Linked DNA regions of Homo sapiens. The protein of the gene in region 2 interacts with the protein of the main gene of each other region in a pairwise test. Each region holds a gene or a part of one and is shown on either strand. Other genes may lie near its edges.

Evidence for each region.
Region 1: the proteins of THRB (region 2) and HMGN3 interact in a two-hybrid assay, tested with the Homo sapiens proteins (one study listed by BioGRID).

Annotation. Positions count from the first base shown.
Region 1 is NC_000006.12:79,231,659-79,238,969, forward strand, and holds the start of HMGN3 (high mobility group nucleosome-binding domain-containing protein 3), read right to left. Parts: upstream 3,025-7,311; 5' UTR 2,903-3,024; coding exon 2,888-2,902; exon of another isoform or gene 2,404-2,887; intron 2,270-2,403; exon of another isoform or gene 2,016-2,269; intron 1-2,015. UniProt on the Homo sapiens protein: Binds to nucleosomes, regulating chromatin structure and consequently, chromatin-dependent processes such as transcription, DNA replication and DNA repair.
Region 2 is NC_000003.12:24,120,824-24,127,850, forward strand, and holds part of THRB (thyroid hormone receptor beta), read right to left. Parts: intron 6,935-7,027; coding exon 6,676-6,934; intron 2,303-6,675; coding exon 2,061-2,302; 3' UTR 1-2,060.

The sequences.
Region 1 (7,311 bases), on a different chromosome or scaffold from region 2:
TGGTCATGTTAAGATACAATCAGGAGACACACTTGAATACCTGGTAACAAAAAATGACTCTGACTTCTTTGTATATTTGAGTCCTACCCACACTTTTAAGACCAGCCTAAAGTTAACTTTCCTTATCTGTCCTACTGCTTGTGGGATCTATAACTACACATTCTGGAACACATACACAGTTTTAATGTTATTCAACTGTTTTGTGCTGCTAGTCTTATCACCTCATTGAATTAAACACAAGTTCCAAGAGGGCAAAAACTGTATGTCCCTACAGCATTACAACAGGGCTAGGATTCCAGATGTTTTCATTGACTTTATCTGTACCACTTCTTGCTCTGCAGAACAACTTACTCAGATGTTCATTAAATAACATTTCTTGATTTCTAGGAAAGGTTGATACAGGGGGCTAAGAAGGCAAAAAAGTACTAGGGGGACATTTTAAAAGCTTATTATATTGTAGAGCAGACAATTCTTTAGTCAAGAAAAATATTGTGTAGTATGTAAATGCTTTGGCAGTTACCCCAGCTTTGAAGATCTTGAAGAGCTATGCATGGATTGTCTCCAGTTCTTTTTTGTATCTAAGCAGGCTTTACCTAATGACAGTGGTTCCTCACATAAGTTCCAGTGAACTTCAGGATTCCATGAGGCTGCTCTAAGACTTGACTGATAGATGGATGGCCATGATCGCCGTGTTTAATCTGAGGTTGTTCCTGCCCAGGTACCAACTGAGGTCGTTAGGCTTCAGGTATAAATGGAAAGCCTTCCTATTAATCAAGGAGAGGTTTTCCATCACCGGAGAACACTCTGATGTCCTCAGGAATGACACACAGGTGCCTGTACACAGTTTTGCCCCTAGTCTCAGGACCATTGGCTAGCTTATGCATGGGGGTTCCCTGCCTTCCAGGGAAATAAAACTGTAGCTGTAATTTTACTGTTATTTTAGTTTTTTTTTTTTTTCCTTCCGTCTCCTTGAGAGAGGCAGACAGGGGAAGTAAGAATAATGGTTTCAGCAGCTCTGGCCCTTGAATAAACAGCAAGGAAGGGTTCCATCGTCAGGGTCCATTATACATAAAGTGTGCACACCTAACCTACTGTTTATGTAAACAATGGTTATAATTCCCAGGAAAAAAAGATGGCCTCCAGCTCACTTACTCTGTAACCCGTATCTTGATGATTAGTTCCTTTGTCTCTACTAGAATTTCCAATCCATCATTAACCCTCAGTCAAAATGCTGAAAATGGTGACATCACTTAATATCCTAATTCTAGTAAAACAGGGCTAGAAAATACCTTCATAAAATTAAGTTTAAATAATAAATCTCAAGTATTAGTGCTCTTAATATGCCATCTGTCTTCTTAAACTGGGAGTACCTTTGGATTTCCTTAATTCCTCTTGACCCACCCTTTCGTAAGTGAGTACGAAATGGGTGAGAATAAGACTTTGGCATCTATAGCATCTGATTAAATCTTTACTAGTAGTTATTGGTTGGTGAGATGCAGGACAATTTATGTCTTTAAGTCCCAGCTGAATGGGGGTAACACCGCTCAAGCTGTTTTCAGGATTAAATGAGATAATGCAAGTCAAATTCTGCACAGCGTGAGGGACACAGTATGTGCACAACAAACTCTAAGACTTTTAAACACTTTCAATTATTTTTAAAAAGTGGGGTAGGAGACAAGTTTCTACCCAATTTTTAGTAATAACATATAAGAAGGGGAAAGCTTTTGAATTTTTAAAACTTCAGTATTTTAAAATAATGCAGTCACTCTCACACACAAATTAGTCCATGGTCTTTGATAAAGCAAGACATTAGGTGTAATTTTGCTTCAAATTTAATACCCACACTCGTTGACACTGTTGGAAACACTGAGGCTGGCGGTGGGAGGGTGCAAAGCACTTGCTTAGGAACCAGCTGAGAAATCCTCACTGATTTCTCAGGGAGGAGGAAACCTTTCCCTTCCCTCCCCGGGACAAGTCGAAGCCCCACCCCGAGGGAGATTTGTGTCCCTGAATGTAGTAGTTGGTGTCCGGGGCCTGCGCAGAAGAGGACAGTCCGCAAGGGGCGGAAGACAAGACAAAAATGACTCCAGTTCGCTAGACGCGCAGAGGGGCGGATAGCGCGCGGACCCCGCCTTCCCCAACCGAGTGTGGGTTCCAGTCGCTGGGGAGGACCTGGTGGCCCCCTGACCTTGGACGAGCCATATTGGACGCCCCGGCGCCGTCCCGTCTTCCACGCTGCCAACTCCACCGCTCCCGCCCCGAACTGCGGGTAGGTCCAGGCCGCCAGGCCCCGCCTCGCCGGCCCCAGCCCTGATTGACACTGGAGTTGGTACATACGGGTCTGCAGCGGAGGCGAGCAGGAGGGTGAGCGCTATTTTAAACATGGCTTTCTCTTTCCCTTAGCCTAGGAGCCACCGCAGCGCACCCAGCCCGCGAGTACAGCCGCATGGGAATAATCCCAACATTTGCCTGATTTATTTTCTTCCCTCTCCTTACGCTTGTACTTGTTTTTCTCCTCTCGCTGTTTTCCCTTCACACTAATTCGCAACCTGGCAGTTTGCAAAGAGGAAACTCCCTTTCGGAATGGAAAGCCGCTTTTGCTTCTTGTTGTTGGGGGTGGAAAACATTCCAGCGAGAATGAGTTCAAAAAGAAGGGAAACCGCGTCACTGGAGAGAAAGTAACATTAAGAGATCGATGAGGACGGAGTGGGTAGGGGGGACAGAGAGAGGAACGTCTGCAACAGGCATCTAAAAACAAGCGTGGAGGAGCAAAGATTCCCAATCCCCGGGTTACTACCGCGCGCGTTCTGCGCGAGCCATTGCAATGCCAGCATTTACTGTAAGCAGAATTTGAAGGCTTTTGAAATCTTTTTTTGGTAAGACTTACCTTTCTCTTCGGCATAATGACTATGTCGGTGAAGCAAAAAGTAAAGCAACGGACTGGAACTGCTGGCGCCGCCGCTGGATGCTGCCTCTGCCTCTGCAGCTGCTCACGCGCAGGGCACGACGTAGCCCGGCCTCTTCGACCTGCACCTCCGCGGCTCCCTCTGGGGGCCCTCTGCTCGCCTCCCTGCTGCTCCAATGAGGAGCCCCGCCAGCCGGCCGCGAGGCCCCATTGGCTGAGGCAACGTTCTAAATTCCACGAGGGCACGCCCACCTCCGCGCGCGGTACGCGCTGTTGTAGTTTCCACTTCACCGAAAAAAATCTGCCTGGCGACTGAGCATGCCCAGTTCAACTAGTAGCCTCCAGGCCACACAATCCTGAAGTTTCATTGTTTCGCTGCTCTCTCTTTGAGATTGTAAGAATAAGAACAGTGTGTGTCTTCATAGGAAGGAAAAAGAGTAAGAATGAATACGTAAACTTTATAATGTAAATATATACACAGCAGGTACCTTATTCATTTCCTACCCATAAAGGCTTTTAATGAATGTTACATGGTGGGAATCTGTAAAGCGTGGGAAGGTACTCTGTACTGGAAGAGCGTGGCAACTTCTAAAGGCCTCAGTTTCCCCCCCTAGATATATAGTGACAACAGTCCCTAAAATCACTTAGCTCTAATTTTCTGAAATCTGTGATTATAAATCACTCACTAATTCAGCTAACTTCAAACTAGATGTGAAGACGAATAGGACATGTTTGTTACGGAAATTAGGAAAAGAAAGAACAAGGCAAAAACTGATTATTTTATATTTGAGACATATATTTGAATGACACCCGTCATGTTACACTTTATGCGTAATATTTCTCAAAGTTCTGCAAGGCATAAAATGAGCATTGCAAAAATATTTCTGAATTCATTTTATGAGACCAGATTTACTCTGATACCAAAACCAGTGAAAGACTTCAAAAGAGAGTTACAGACCAATATCACTCATAAACATAGACACAAAAGTCGTGAACAAAATTTTAGTAAATGAAACTCAACAACATTTAAAGGGACAATACATCATGACCTGTGGGGCTTATCTTGGGAATGCAAAGCTGCTTTTTTAATATCTGAGAATCAATCAATGTAATTGGCAGGATTAATAGAATAAAGGGGGAAAAACAATCCTTTCAGCAGATGCAGGAAAAGCGCTAGTGAATGGGTAAGCAAATTGTGATGAGCACATGCAGTGGAATACTATTCAGCAATAAAAAACAATAAAAAATTTTCCTACATGGATGAATATCAAAAACAAAGTGCTGTACGAAAGAAGTCAAATACAAAAGACCACACTGAATGATTGCATTCATATGAAATTATAGAAAAAGCAAAATTGGGCAAAGTTAGTTTCAGAATCATCTTAGCAGGCAAAGCTCACATCATAGGAAAATGTGTTGAAGCCTTACATTACAAATATGGCCAAATCCACTTTGGTAACACAGAGGCTGCAAATATGTATTAAAAATATCATGTATTAAATATGTATTAAAAAAGCAATGAAGTTTAATATTTCACTTTTTCTTTAGTAATTTTCAGAATACATTAATTGATCTAGTACTCTCCAGAGGTGGTTGATTACTTTCTTTTTTGGAACATCTTTATGAACTCATGGATTTTTACATATTTGGTGTGCATCAGTGTATTGCTATCATTATTATTACCTTTTTAATGCTCCTATTACCACATCTTTAGCCAATGCATACCCTTTCAAATTAGTGCTTGTGTCCTTTTGACATGATCTTAATCATTTTTGATAGATTCCCTGTTCTTGGGCATTCAGTGAATGACAATAGTATACTGAAACGAATTAAGATAAAAACCAATTGCTTAGAGCTAGATAAAAATTTACAAGTTAATAATTTTATCATTAAAATAATATTTATAATGAAGATGTCTTTCAAGATATTAATTTGCCAAATACTTGATAGTTAAATAAAGAAAAAGTCAGTGAAAACATTTTTAGTAAGATATGTGTGAGAAGGATACTGAGTAGCACTTGCAATCTGGACTGGATGGCTATTTTTCTTCATGGAGATGGAAAGGTGCCACAACAAAGGTAGTGCTAAGGTGAATATTTCTCCTCTGTGATGAAAAATAACTCACAAAATTGGCTTCTTTGTTAATTTTTTTTCAAAACCAAACACTCAGATCATCAACAGCAAACAAAATTGTGAATGTTTTTACTGCACACAATAAAAATGCTACGATGAAATTGAAGCTTGCTTGTTGGATGAAGAAAGCTGATTGTGAGGACCTCGAGTTCTTGGAATCTTTAGTTCATTTACAAGTTATGAAAATAACAGCTTCGGTTGAAAAACAACAGCATTGCTTATCTTTCCTTTGATGTAGATTGCACCTGGCTGAGCACTACTCTAGGAAATGAAGTGTTCTCCCTTGTACCTTTAGTAGCCTTCAAGATCTGGGAAAGTCAGTGCAAACCTCTACTGGTGGCCCTGGAGGTAAGAAGAGTAGGCAAAGAGAATGATTTAGCAGGTAGCTAGAATTCTAGGTTAAGAGATAAAGACATCTGGGCAGAAATGAGGGTGTCACATAGAAGACAGTGAGGAGGTCAAGCTGGTAAGAAGTACAGACTCATTTGTTTATCAATATATTCCACTGAGCATTTCTACTACTTTGGAATATCAGCCTCTAAGACAGTAAAAGTAGGATGTATATACTATCTTAGCTAAGGTAGACCTGGATAAATTAACAGAGTTACTGACTGAGACAGAAAGAAAAAAAATAGTGAACAAACTTGTTTTCCAATTCCAGCTCCTCTCCTCTTTTGTCCTACTCAAAACTGTTGGAACTGTACACCTACTTCACATTTTTCAATCAGCAGGGCAAAACCATTTATAGTGTCATGACTATCATTAAGGAAAAGAAAGAGACAGAGACATTGACAGACACACACACGCAAACACACACACAGAGAGAGAGAGAGAGAGAGGGAGAAGGGAGAAGGGAAGGCTAAGAAAAGCAAAGAAAGGGCCAAGCATAGAAAATAGCAGAGTATATATGGTAAAGGTAAGTAATGTTTCATAAGATAATTGTTTCTATTTTCCATATGTGCTCATATAAACACATACACAACACAGATATGTATGTGTGTATGTTGGATTGTGACATGAAATATATTTTTAGTATGGTCTTGGTCAAAAAAATTGAATGCCACTGCTAATGAATGTTGTGGATCTTTGACATTCCGAAAAAAAAATGCTTAATATTAAAATTTTTTTTTTAGAGGTAAGATCTCATTCTGTTGCCCAGGCTGGCATGCAGTGGCACAATCATAGCTCACTGCACGTCAGACTGCTGGGCTGAAGAGATCCTCCTGCCTCAGCCTCCTGAGTAGTTATATAGGTGCAAGCCACCACACCAGGCTTGAGAGGAAGTTTTCAAGGGAAAGAATGACTTGCAGATCACCTCCTTCTTGAACTGTCCCTCTTTTCCTCTTTCAGGCAGACACAGGCAGGGTCCCTTAGGCTTTTGCTGTAAGTAATGACAAATTACTGGAGAAGTCAGATCCAGAATGTACATATTGTTGCTTTTGATAGTTGCAACTGTACACCTACTTTGCATTTTTCAGACAGCAGGGCAAAACAAATGATAGTCATGACTATCATTAAGGCAAAGAAAGAGACAGAGACATTGGCAGACAGACACACACACACACACACACACACACAGAGAGAGAGAGAGAGAGAGACAGACAGAGGGAGAAAGGAAGAAAGGGGAAAAGTGAAAATGATACTGTGTTGCTTCTGATAGTTTGTAATTCCAGATTAAGTTACTAATCTTCCATAAATAGGTCAAAAAATACACAGTGAAGAATTCAGGTGTGTAACAAAACAACATCAAAAACAACAAATAAGAGGTGGCAAAAGAATATTTTGTTTGTATTTTCCAGTCAAGTCTCTACTTTGATTGGGTGCTAACTTTTGAAGAGACCAAGGTTAGTTTTTACAAAGCAACAATAAGAGTCCAAGAACTAACGGTCCCAAATCAAATGAGCTGCCTGATATTAGTGCAGATCCCTAGGCCCCAGTCCCAAGGTATTGAATGGCTAGGCTTGGAAATCTGCATTTTCAAACAAGCTTTTCATGTGTTGCTTACACTATAATTCGGGGACTAGAGTATTTAATAGACTAGGCCCTTGCTCTCAACAAATATTTGCTGAATGCCGGTACTTGGATTCTGATGACAGGTATCTATAAAAGCCTGTGGAGTTCTCAACATACTTCCAGAGCAGGAGCGTAATTCTGTGGGTGAAACTCGCCCCACAGTCCTCACCTCATGCTTTTGCTCCATCTCAGTTTTGCTGGGCACAACCTGTTTATTTCACTTTCTTTCTCTTCTGTAGTTGCAAGGAACCTGAAGAGTG
Region 2 (7,027 bases):
CACTTCCTTTCTCTGGGTAACAAGTTCCATAGCAATGTTCTTGTTTCCTTTTTCCCAGAAGCCAGTACAATTGCTTTCATGCATTGAATATTTAATTCCCCGCTCCCAGATAATTTCCAATCATACTTGGAATTTTCAGTGCTGTTCCTCTTCTTTTTCCAAGGCCTCTAAATGGTTGACTAGTATTGTGTCAAATTATTATTTCGAGCCAATAACAAATTTACGTTCCTTAACTGTTAAGTGGGCCATACTTCTTGTCTAATAAAGTTAGGAATTTAAGTGTTAAAAAAAAATAATTAAAGGAACCAGATTTTTTTTTTCCCCTTGAAATTCAGACAATATTAAGGGCAGGAAGGGTTTTAGAGATCATGACTTATTCACCAGGTAAGAAAACCAAGACCTAGAATTACAAATCTACCAGTTGACAGAGCACGAACTAGAACTCAGGCACCCAGACTTCTGGGCCAGTTATGCTCCACCAAACTTACAAAAAGCATCTACTTGGTTTCCATAGTGACTTTCCTTCCTTTGTTTTTAGGTAAATCTCACTGATATGGCTTATTTTCCCCAATATTTCCAGGATAAGGCAGTAAAAGGTAGGCAAAGGAATAGTTTATATCTACTATGCCAGTGGAGAATGAGATACATTCAATTGCATGGGTACATTCTATGCCCATTTTCTGACGCTGAAGAGATGAAGTGTCACTGTTTGTTTTCTGGGCACAAGCTATTCTAGCATGGGCCGTTGGGGAGGCAGGTTGGGCAGGAAAGTTAAGTGTGCACATGGTCTGCAGGTGTTTTCTATTGAGTATCTGTCAGGGTATGCTATGAGAGGGACAGGAGGGTCAGTGGCAGGGCCAGTCTCTGTTTAGAGATAGTCAAGCTATTTAGTTCCTCAGAGTCAGAGGGAAAAAGGGGACTAGGAGACATTTGTCAATGAGGCAAGGAGCTTGAGGATCTAACCAGGAGGAAGCGTCCTCCAGCCATCAGGACACAAAGGGGCCCTCAGAACACTGCATTTCCTTCAACTCAGAATGTAGCTGCACTAATCTCGCCTCAGCATTTCTCCAGAAGAAGACTGAAGTTTCACCGTATCTTTCCTTGATTAGAATATTTGATCCATAGAGAAATCTGTTGTCAGCTCAGCAAAGATACAACCTGGATAAAGAACTTCAGGAGCTTGGGAGATGACAGATCAGATGCCACAGAAAAGGGGTGCCACCCTGTAAATAGGTTTGATTTCTGTAAAAGTGTTCTCTGAGCCTAAATGGGAAAGAAGCCTTCCTACTGTGAGGTAATACTATGTGAATTTTTGGAAACCATGCAGTCACTGACATTGGTGAAGATTTCTAATTTCTCTGGGCTCACTGAAAAAAAATATTTTCCTTGTTGGCCTCCATCAGTCAATACCTGCACATCCTTGAGTCACACCTTTGTATAACTTGAATTAAACCATAACGTTATAAAAATGATATTGGAAGGGCAGCTGATTTTTTTAGGACACAAATATTCCTGTACATTCCAAGTTATGCTCCTAGGAGACCATAAAGAGTGCTGCAAACAGCATGCTCTTGAATAGATGAAAATTTGTTCGAGTCTTTCCCTAAAAGGCTGAAAGCCACATCTAACTAAAGGTGGTCTGTGCTCTGTTAACTTCAGCCCTGCGAACATCAGGATTGGGTGGAGGTGGTCGTATTATCTTGGTTTTAAGGCTTCTTTAGTGTCCTGTGGCGCCATTTTGCTGACTCAAGTCTTGGACCAGGGACGGGTGGGAGCTGGTGATGCTTGGTGCTGGTGAGTTAATGATTGTCCCCCACCCCACCTCCACAACCATAAAACCTTCAGAGCATTCACATCACAGGACCGGAGAACGAAATGCAATAGTTTCAAGTACCCGCATTCAAGGGGCAATTTCATCCATGTCTATGCCAAGGACTACTTCCCTTTTCCCTCCCAAATAATCCCTCCCAACACAAAGAAACAAACAAAAAAGAGCTAGGCAATGGAATGAAATGACACCCAGTAGTGCTGTAGGAATTATGAGAATGAATCCAGTCAGTCTAATCCTCGAACACTTCCAAGAACAAAGGGGGGAAGAGTTCTGTGGGGCATTCCACCTTCATGTGCAGGAAGCGGCTGGCATGGCAGGCTCCTATCATCCGCAGATCTGTCACCTTCATCAGGAGTTTTGGCCAAAAGTGTGTCACGTGGTGTTTTCGGTAATTGATATAGTGTTCAAAGGCCAGCAGGAAACTATCTTGGTACTTTTCTATTCTCTCAACACAGGCAAGCCCCGGGCGATCTGCGGGGAAGAGAGAAGATGGACATTGATTCAGAGATGGAAGGGGGAAGGCTTGCTTTGTCCAATTCCAGGCCTTTATTGGGGGGCGGGCAGATCTAGGGTCTTCCCTCTTAGCCATGAGCATGGATGCAGCGTGAACTCTGGTGCTCCAGGGACCAGGTACCAGGGGAGTGGCATCATTTATATGAAGAGAGGCAGTACTTTGTTCAGATAAATATCTCTGTTTAGACAGTTTAGCTTGAGTGTGAATTACCTTCTTGAGTGTGAAAGGTGATGCCTCCCTCCTAGGGTACAGAAGGAGAAGCCTGACATAGCTGAAATATTCTGCAAGATGAGGGGAACAATTTTGAATTTTCACTGGCTGCCTGGCAGAGAGGAGAGGATGAGCGTGGACATGCATAGAAGGGGGAGATATATGAAGGGACTGGGGACATTGCAGCAGGCCTGAGGCCAAAGGAGGAACGCGGAATAGTAAGACATTTCCTTGAGGACCAAGAAACACCATGTTTAATTTTGTGTTGTCTTCCAGGCTGCAATGAACTGGCCTTTCCCTTCCCTTATGCCTTTAGTAAAATTGCTACCAGTAGCAGCCTTGTATTAGTCATGATTTTGGAATTGAAATGAAAAGGGGAGGGGAGCTGTGCCAGAGTCACCCCATGCAGAGAAGAGAACAGCTATAGTGGGAGCTGGAGTGAGAAGACACCGGGACCCTGGAAAGCCCAGCAAATCTTCCCAAGTCCTGTGCAGACTACTGGGCTTCCCATAGTATGTGGGAGAGGCTCAAGTCAGTTTCCAAAAGTGGCAAACAAAGGGGTGACACAAGGAGGCTGGGCAACTGGGGAATAGTTGGGCTGCAGACACTTGGCTGACAAAAATAATCTATAAACCCGGATGAATTCCTCAAATAGCTCCAGGAGGCCCAACGTGCCCCTGCTAAGTTCTCTTCAGTTTGTTCTTTGTGGCTCTGATCAAATGAATTCACACTTCAAAGGTCCAATTATTGAGGTGTCTGTATCAATAGGAATCGAAACAGGGTTCTGCTTCATTGGAAAGGAAGGATCAGGGCTAATGTCTCAATTCACCCTTCTGAGTCTAAACAAACTAACAAACCATATGGGCTTTTGGAATCCCCTATTTAGCACAAATGGCAATTCGTGCATTTTTATCTTGTGTTTTCCTTCATATTTGATGAAGCTGCTCTGCAGATTTGCTGGTTCTCCCTCTCTCCCTTTCCCCTATCTTCTCTCTTTCTTTGAGTGTGCAAGAATTTTCCACAGGATCCTTTAATTTTTGACCCAAATAGAAGATCAACATATTATTGCTTTGGATGTGTTCTTTCAAAGGGAAAAATATAATGTGGGTTTTGTGGCATCAAAGAGATAAAGACGAGATGGCCACGTAAATGACATAGCGAGTACAAATTGACATTTTGATGATGCTTGAATCACACTGAACAGGTTTATGAAGAGAGAAACATTTTAAAGACTGAAGACCATTTTAACTCCTTAAGACAAAAGTTCTTAAAGAAATGTCTTTCAGATCATTTTCATTTTTTCTCTTTGCACTGTGGGACCAAGGAACTTAGAAGTAGTGGCTCTTGGAAAAGTCTTTGAAGAAAAAGTCTAAGATATTGTGTAACCGAAATGGCACACAAAACATGGGGCTTAGAACATCAGGCCCCATGATAGAACTGGAGACTTGGGGCCCTGACACGCAGCTATCATTTGCCAAATGCACAATGTCTTGTAATATTTTTCTGGTCCTGGCAGTATTAATGAAGAGGGTCCACATCACTGGGGAGGGTGGATTGTGAAAAGTTATTAAGTTGTCCTGTAGCTGTCAGGCAGTGTCAGCCTCACAACATGAGAGAACTGGGAAGAATCATTCAGTTTGGTGTTTGATAGTGTTTGGCATCACATTCACAGTTTTTGTCATCTCCACCTACTTTTCCTTTTATCTACCTTACTTAGATTATTTGCTTAATAATCTGTTAAACTGACCCACTACAGAGGAAACATCTTATTATTCAGTAATAAAAATCCATTTGACATAAATCAGAAGATAACCACAAAAATAGATGCATGGCAAAAGCCTTTGTTACTTTGGAGCTGAAGGTTCTGGCTGAACATTGCTCCTGAGATCCACTCTCTCTTTGTTAAAAAAGAAGGTAAGTGTCAAGAGAGGTGTTAAAGGCAGACTAGCACCACACCGAATCTCTCTCCTTGCCTTATTTGGAAGGAGATATAACCAGGAAGAAAACCGTCAGAGAAACAGCTTTCTCGTGGTGTGATTCAACATTATTTAAAACTGTCTTTGTACCTCTAAAATCTCAGCTAAAAAAATTACCATGAGTCCCTCCAGAAATATAATTCCCGTGTATGTAGCTTAATTTCTTCATTTTAAAGGTCACTGAAGTCCAGAGAAGCTAGGGGTCACCCAAAGTCACACAAGGAGTCCTTGGATAAGCTATAAATTTTATTTCTTTGAGACTAATTCTCCTGAACGACTGTGGGCCCCATTTCTTGCTGGCTGTCACTGGAGACCACCCTCAGCCCTAGAGGTCATCTATAGCTCCTGTCATGGGAACTTTCCCCACATGGCGGTTTACTTCATGAAGCTGGCACGGAGAGTCCCTAGAGCAAGTCTGCCAGCAAGAGGGAATCTTAGATTATGTAATGTAATCACAAGGGGTGACATCAAATTTGCCATATTCTCTTGGCTAGAAGCAAGGTACAGGTCCTGCACACACTGAAGGACAGGAGATTATCCAAGGTGTGAACATTAGGAGGTGGTGGGGAGTGTAGGAGGCCGGTCTGGAGTCTGGGTGCCACAGTGTACATGGGAGTTCATTATGCTATTCTATCTGCTTACCCTTGAAATTTTCCATAATAAAAAGAATTATTTCTTTCTTTTTTTAAAAGTCTGCCATATCTAAATTTCCTATAGTAAATACATTTCTAGATTAGCTTTAAAAAAAGAATTCTAGGCCAGGCGTGGTGGCTCATGCCTATAATCCCAGCACTTTAGGAGGCTGAGGTGAGAAGATCACTTGAGCCCAGGAGTTCAAGACCAGACTGGGCAACATAGTGAGACCTGTTTCTCTCTACAAAACAATAAAAAATTAGCCAGGGGTGGTGGCGTGTGCTTGGAGAGGCTGAGGCAGGAGAATCTCCTAAGCCCAGCAGGTCAAGCCTGCGATGAGCTGTCTTTACACCACTGCACTCCAGCCTGGGCAACAGAGCAAGACCGTGTCTCAGGTTAAAAAAAAAAAATTTCCTACTGAGTTAACCAGGAAGCAGCAACTCTACAAAGAATTCTCGATGTACTTGTGACCGATATTTTATCCACATATTCAGCCATTTATCCAATAAGCATTTCTTGAATTCTATTGCACACTGGCCTAGGTGCTGGATGTACAGTTAGACACATCTATGTCCTCAAAAAAAAGAAGTCCACAGGGACTTACGTGGACAAGTGAAGCAGGTAGTTACAGTGCAGAGTGACAAGTGCCAAAGCACATCTACACTTGGGTGCCCTGAAAATGCAGAGGACTCTGAAACCACTTCTATTTAAAATTATCTTCCCTGAAAGGGTTTGATGTGTAGTGGCTTACAGACGGCTGCCCATTCTGTGCTATCCTCCCATCTACAGGGGGACCGTTGAGTCCTGGCTGGCACTCAGACTTGTTTGGGCCAATCCAGTGTGGATGAAGGGATCCTGTGTGATTTGAGACTGGGCCTCATGGGATCTGCAACTTCTGTTTTCGTGTGCTTGGGACTCTTTCTCTTGGAAATCAACAGCCAAGTAAGAAGTCTACCCTGCCGGAGGAAAGGCCGCATAGAGGGAGGCCTGAACCAGTGTTTGATGTCCCAGCTGAACTCCAGCCATCTTGGATGTTTAAGCCACTAAGTTTTGGGTCGGTGTGCTATTTAGCAACAGATAACTAAAACTTCAGTTGTAGCTAAGCCATGAACAAATTCTAGCCTGCATCCGCGGTTTCCACACACAGAACTTAACACACAATCGTGTGGTCACTCACATCCATATCTGGCATACCCCAAACCAGAAGGAGGCAGGTTTGGCCAAAGACTACGAAGAGGGCTGCACAGTATCCACCAAAGGCGGATCACTTCGTAGAGTCTTTAAGATGGCTCCTTTGGCTTCTTTCTATCCTGGGACACTGCAAAAAGCATCAGACATCTGACGCCCCCCCTTTAAGTTCCCAGTCCACTGGCAAACCTGCAATTTCTTACTGAAGAAGAGTGAGCTATGTTTCTGAAGCTAAAGGGGGACTGAAAACTCAAGTGATTGGAATTAGCGCTAGACAAGCAAAAGCTCTTTGGATGCCCACTAACGAGTCTAGGCGTACTCACCTGAAGACATCAGCAGGACGGCCTGAAGGAGGGCTACTTCAGTGTCATCCAGGTTGAAAGAAGACAGAGACATGCCCAGGTCAAAGATGGCGTCTGACACCACCCCAAGACCCCCATTTTTCAGCTGGCCCCGTGTCACTGCCATTTCCCCATTCAAGGTTAAAGTCTCACTTTCTGGGTCATAGCGCACAGCAGCGCGAAGGGACATGATCTCCATGCAGCAGCCTTTGAGGAGGATGATCTGGTCTTCACATGGCAGCTGAAAAGAACCAGTTCATGTCAGCAAAGAACAAATGCAAAAATGCCAGTCAGGAACAACATACAGTATCTTAAAAGCAATAGGAATAACCTT